2 separate regions of the Homo sapiens genome follow, and region 2 is linked to region 1. The links come from fine-mapping of genetic effects on gene expression. Tissue or cell type: gastroesophageal junction. Region 1 holds a variant in brackets; the other region holds the start of a gene. All regions are shown on one strand. Distances are between the middles of the regions.

Region 1 (2,912 bases):
AAGTTACATAATCCTGGATTCCACATCTGGAAACAAGGAGCACTCCCTGTATTTGGAGTTTATTATAAATATAGGCAGAAAGGCTGCAATGGAATTCAGAAGGACAACCCAGTAGAAAATTGAAACCTGGAAAAAAAAATCAGCAATTCCATAACACATCACTTATAGACAGCCCCACGCTGCCCCTGGTAAGTTTTTGCAGAAGAACATGAAAATCCTTAGCTAAGGTACAAACAAGCCAAGTAGAGGTCAACACATTTGGGAAATAGTGGCTCCACACTCCTAAATGTCAAGGGTGTGTGTCTGGGGGGTGGGGGTGGGTGGGGAAGGATTGTGGTATTTCAGGGAGAAGGAATGTCGGATGTTTGAAGACAGCACTAAGTGTATATTAGAGTGAGCACTGTCCTGGGCCTCTAATGGACTCCATTCTGAGATCTGTGTCAGAACTGTCAATAACCCAGCCTAGCCCAAAACTGTTAATGTATCACCTCCCACCCAGAGCTGACCCTGCTTCTCAGATTGCTTCCAGGCAGGTCCCCTGCAGAGAAAGCCGAAGGATGGGTAGACACACAGGACTGGTATTGGAAGAGATGCTTCATGGTTTATTTCTTCTGCACCTGCCCTCAAAGCTTGAAGGCAGCTCTTGAAACCCTTATTTCCAAGAAAGGGGAGGAACTTGGCTGTGGTATTATGATGCTCCCTAAGATCTTGCAGTCTGAAAGCTGGCTTGGAGCCTTGTTTTCTTCTGCCATCTCCAGAATCCCAAATGTACTAATCAAGACTCCCTTGTTCGTTCTAGGATAACACATGACTGGACCACAGGGAAATAAATGGCCATGAAAAGATGACACCCTGAAGCCAGACAATATTCTCCTAACAAAGAAAGGGGAAGAGTTAACAGAGGGTTAAACCAAAGACGGTTTGGCTAGAGAGACAGCATAGTTGAACCTTCTCATCAGTTGTGGCTGTAACAAGAATTTGCAAAGATGAAGGTTTATTTAAGGAATTAACCAAGAAATAAGCTGTTCTACCCACAGTCATCACAGCTGCCAAAACTCAAATTATTTTCTTACCCTGAGATGATCCTAGGGGAAAGCATGATTCAAGTTCTACCAGAGTGTCAACTACTCCCTCTGGGCTTGTGTTAACTCTTTTGGAATATTAAAATTGTTTCTGTAGCCTGCCAGAACAAAGCTGGGTTGTTGCAGTAGCCTCCCAGATGAGGTTAGGGTCATTGCGGGCGGGAGGGAGTCTTTCTCACCTTTTTTCTTTTTATCTTATATACACAAAGTTAAATGACTGGATGAAAGCCCCAGATACTGGTCTGTAGAAGTGTCTTTGTTCTCATGGATGCACTGTTACTTCCTGGACTTTGGGGGACTGAGGTCTTTTATAGTTAAAGAAATATACTTAGGAGATTGGCCTGGTTGGGGCTCTGCCATCACAGTCTCTGGAGCTGTAACCTAATCACATATCCTTGGCAGCAAAGGCAAGATCCCCTGCTGACTTGTCAAACTCTCATATGGATGTTAAGAAGATTAAGATAATAGCATGCCTAACATAGCTAATAAGAGAGATTTAAAACAATTGGCAGAAACAGATTGAGTTATGAAATGCTTATTATGGATGATTCTGTGTCACAAAAACAGCATATA[G/A]GGTCAGCTTAATTTCACACACAAGTAAGGGGAGAAGAGATGCCAATGATGACGAGGCAGAGAGAGAGAGAGAAGGAGAGAGAGAAAGAGAGAGAGCCTGCTATGCCATGGCCAGTGCTCAAGTGGGCAGACTGATACTGAGCTCTGCTGGGATTGCCCAGTACCAACCCCCTGCCCACACCCCACCACTGATCATGGCCAGTTTGGAAAGGGTGTAGAGGTCACGGAAGTGTCAGGTCACACCCAATGTCCTAGACACTGGAGGAGGTACATCTGTGTCCAAATATCCTAAATAGATTTTCCTAAATTTGAGAATAGTCACTTCAATCTTTCTTCTTTCCAGCCTGGGTAGATCAGCCACATGCCAATTGTCTTCTTGTTTTCTTTCCAGGACAAGAAGAACATAGTTTCACTCGCAGGGAATGAAGGACCCTTTTGGGCCTTGGGGGGAACACGCTGCATGCAGCTTCCTTTCCATCCTTGCATCTTCTTTGCTGTCTAGTGCTCCTTGTCATGGTCTCTGGGGCTGTCAGCAGCCACCGCCCCTGCGCTGTGGGCTCCCTGCCCTGTGGAGTCCTGTGCTCCAGGCTGGCTCCCACCTCTCCCTAAGAGACACCTGGGCCTGGCCGTGTGGTTTGTAGGCTGGAGTGGGGACAGAGGCCTGCTGGTCTCACCCCACATTTCTCATCCATTTAGAGGAAGGAGCCATCTGAGAATCCAGGGACGCTCCTCTGGCCCACCAGCCTTCTCTTCCCCCTCCCAATCTCCCCTTCCTTTCACAAGGGAAGGGAGGAGATTCGGTTTGCAGCGAGAAATGTTGAAGTTGGGAACGAAGTCTTTGGAGTGGATTAGCCCTTTGATCTTCAGGTGGGATCTCCAGGTGGGACGCTCATGGTGAGAACAAGCAGCAGGCTGCTCTCCTGCCTTGCTGGTGAAACCCTGTCCCAGACGCCTGAGAAAGTGACCTGGCAACATCGTTAAAATTGCAAGCACGCATTCCCTTTAAACCAGAAATCCCCCTCTTAGGAATCTCTCCCATAGAAGTAAAAGCATCTAGGTATAAAGGGACCTCTGTAAACAATGTGCACTCTTTGCGGAGGCAAAAGTCTGGAAACTAGATAAGTATCCTTGATAGAGGAAAGGAGGAATACAATAGACTACAGACACCGTTCAGAGAAAACTTAATGAAAACACTGGCAGACACAAATCAGGTTGTGGACATGTGTTTTCTTGGGAGAAATTAAGGAAGCTGAAGAT
Region 2 (2,912 bases), 36 kb after region 1:
GGTTGGTTCTGCGGTCCAGAAGCTGCTTCGCCCGGCAGCGGTGGAGGCGACTTCGGAGCTCATCTCGCGCCCCCACCACTGGGAACCTGCCTAGCGCACTCTACTGAGTCACCTCTGCCCGAGTTCAGGATCCGAAGCGAAAAACAAACAAAAAAACAAATCCCCAAAACCCCAGGCTCCAGCGCTCGAAGTCTGGATTTCGAGCGCAGGTACCACGAAATTAAAATCCTCGAAGCCCCGGAGGGGCGACTGCGGCTGGCGAGTGTGTCGCACGGATCCTAGCCGGGGAATTCTGGAGGATGTACTCGGTTTCCGTTAGAACAGGTTGCCTCGCAGTCACCTGGAGGGGGCGGCCTGGGAGAGGGAACAGCTGCGACCCAGGGACCTCAGGGCCAGGACCACGAGCACGCTCACTCTCACGCCGGTGGAATTCGCACTCGGGTGTGCAGAGCGCACCGGTCTGTCCACCAGCCAAGCTGGCTTGAGAGCCAGGTCCCGAGCGAAGCCGGGAGGGACCCGAAGACAGAAAGCGACCCAGGTCTGTCCACGACGCCTTTCCAAGCCTCACTGTTGGCCACCCGAGGGGCTCCAGCTGCCAGCCGTAGCGGGACTGGCGGGGGACGGGGTGGGGAGGACGTCCCTCTGCAGAGGGAGCTTTGCAAGTGACAGTCACTGCGGATTTTGCAGGCGTAAACATTAAGCCGGCATGCCAGCGGGCAGGGGCCGCCTTCGATTTTCTGGGCTGGGGGCCACCATCTGCGTAAGAAACCTGGGTTTCCACAACTGCGAACCTACCGCAGGGACTCGGCAGGACAGCGCGGCGTGAGGAAGTGCCCACCTTGCCTTCTGGGGTTGGGCCCTGAGGTGGGACCTCGGGCAAAGACTCTTGTTAAAATCGCAAGTTGGAGACCTCACAGGTGGTATTAAAAACGTGCCACTGCAGAAACCCTTTTCCTCCTACCTCGAGGGTGATAAACACAGGGTTAAAAAGACACTTGTTCAGTAGAAGGCAACTTCGCAGAAGATGTAAGGGAATCGGGGGTGGGGTAGAGGGGCCGGTATAAAACCTGGTGGAAAAAGCGGGAGGCGCTGGGAAAAGTGGGGGTTCCGTCTCACCAGACGGCGGGGGAGGTCTGCCCTCACCCACTCGGCCCTGCGGGACGCCGGCCCCGGCGCACTCACCTGAAGCGCCGCTGCTGAGCCACCAGCTCGCGCGCGGGGGATGTGGACCCGGCTTCGGTCCCGGGAGCTGCCTGCCTGCTCTTCTCTGGAGGCGGAGAGGGGACCGTGTCTCCGAGGCACCAAATCCTTGTCCTTTTGCACCCGCTGACTCACCCCTCCACCACTGATGTCTTTAAGCTCCTGAACCGCTGTCACTTTACCTGCATTTTTTAAAAAGAGTCAAAATAAGAAAAGAAAAAAAAATGCAGATAACCGGTAACTCCACAATCACCCTTTTAATATTCAGCTCCCCGACACCAGAAAAGAATAGCAAGGAACTTTGCAGCTCTCGCTGACGTAACTCAGGCAGTAGCCCAGCTAGTACCGTAATCTCCTGCTGCTACCGTATTACTCTACGGCAACAGGCACAAGTGCGTATACAGCTGTAATGTTTTCCTCTGGCCTAGAGGGGGTTGGGTTCTAGCGTTTCTTTAAAAAGGTTTGTGTGTGTGTGTGTGTGTGTGTGCGCGCGCGCGCGCGCGTGTGTGTGTGTAGAGTCATTTGTAGTAAATAACTTCTTTAAATGAGCTTTTAAAAATAACGAAAAATTGACACCCTTGCTAGATATTGCTGTGTGTATGGTGTGTTCATAGGAATGTGCTATAAAGTAACTTTGAACAGCTTGATTTGATTAACATTTGGCCTAGGTTTTGTTAAGATCAAGAAGTATATTAAGAATATTGTAATTCTAAATATGCAAGTAAATTATAAGGTGTTTTAAATAGCAAGTAAAATCAGATAAAATATGACAAATCTGATTGTAATGAAATTATATTTTCAGGAAGATAAAGTGGACATATCTAAACCTTATTTAATATGATTCACTTCTAATTTCTTTAGACAGATGAATTTTAAGAGCATTATGGCCACAGAGTTTGGTATTTTTTAAATGCCACACAATCTTTTCCAGTTTTCTTGAGAAAATGGTATCCTTTCAGGAGTGTTACTCTCTTTAATTCATTAATAGCTGGAGTATGAAAACCTAGCACCACCAGTCTTATTACTTTTTTTCTGGTAAATTACATAATCTGTTTACCTTGTGATTGAATAAAGTCACATGTGTTTCAGAATATCGGGAACATAGAAAAATGTTTCCCACTCCAATTCCCACCTCCTAAGTCATCTTTCATCTTTATTGATGCAGACAAAGTGGAATGTTCTTATTTACTAGGTCTCCTTAAACCTAGGAACAAGGAGATAACTTTAAGCAGTGGCACTTAAATTCTCTCCTGTGAACAAAATCATATTAATATGATTACCTTTTCTAAGTGAGATAATGTTTGGGAGGCTCTTTTATAGCAATAAATCTCAAAATGCCTCAGAGGAATGCCCATGAGAGGGTCAGTAAATCCTATGTCATGGAAGACCTAATATATGTATTTATTTCTCTATTGTATACAAAGTCCTCCACCTCTGCCTCATACCTGTAGGGATAGAACTCACACCTAACACATTTGATTTGAATTTAATATATTTTTAAAACTGAATTTCGTGCCATAGGAGGAGCATCCTGGTTGAACAGACAGCTCCACTTCTCATTACTAAGTCACCTGCTCTCTCTGGGATTCAGTCCCCTTAGGAGGAAGCTTGACCTCAATTCCCTGCACTTCTAGTACTTTATCATCAAATATGTGTATAATGTCTGTGCTTCCGAAATCCCATCCATCAGAGGGATATACACTGTTTTGTTT

Which allele goes with the higher level. Alleles are on the strand shown, and positions count from the first base shown. SD is a standard deviation of normalised expression in the study named.
As copies of G replace A in region 1, the expression in gastroesophageal junction of the gene that starts at base 1,525 in region 2 goes down (small effect, 0.26 SD a copy in GTEx).

Evidence for each region. PIP is the estimated chance that this variant, and not a neighbour inherited with it, causes the effect.
Region 2: ADRA1A starts here. The variant in region 1 is fine-mapped to the expression of ADRA1A in gastroesophageal junction (GTEx, PIP 0.96).

Annotation. Positions count from the first base shown.
Region 1 is chr8:26,829,654-26,832,565 of GRCh38, forward strand. The region is part of intron 2 of ADRA1A (adrenoceptor alpha 1A); the gene reads right to left. Among named protein-coding and RNA genes, the nearest start is that of ADRA1A, 36 kb to the right of the region's middle. The variant G/A (reference allele first, on the strand shown) is at 1,656.
Region 2 is chr8:26,865,754-26,868,665 of GRCh38, forward strand. It overlaps ADRA1A (adrenoceptor alpha 1A), which reads right to left and starts at 1,525. Exons shown (of 3, transcript NM_000680.4): 1 at 1,183-1,525. RefSeq lists an enhancer at 1-746.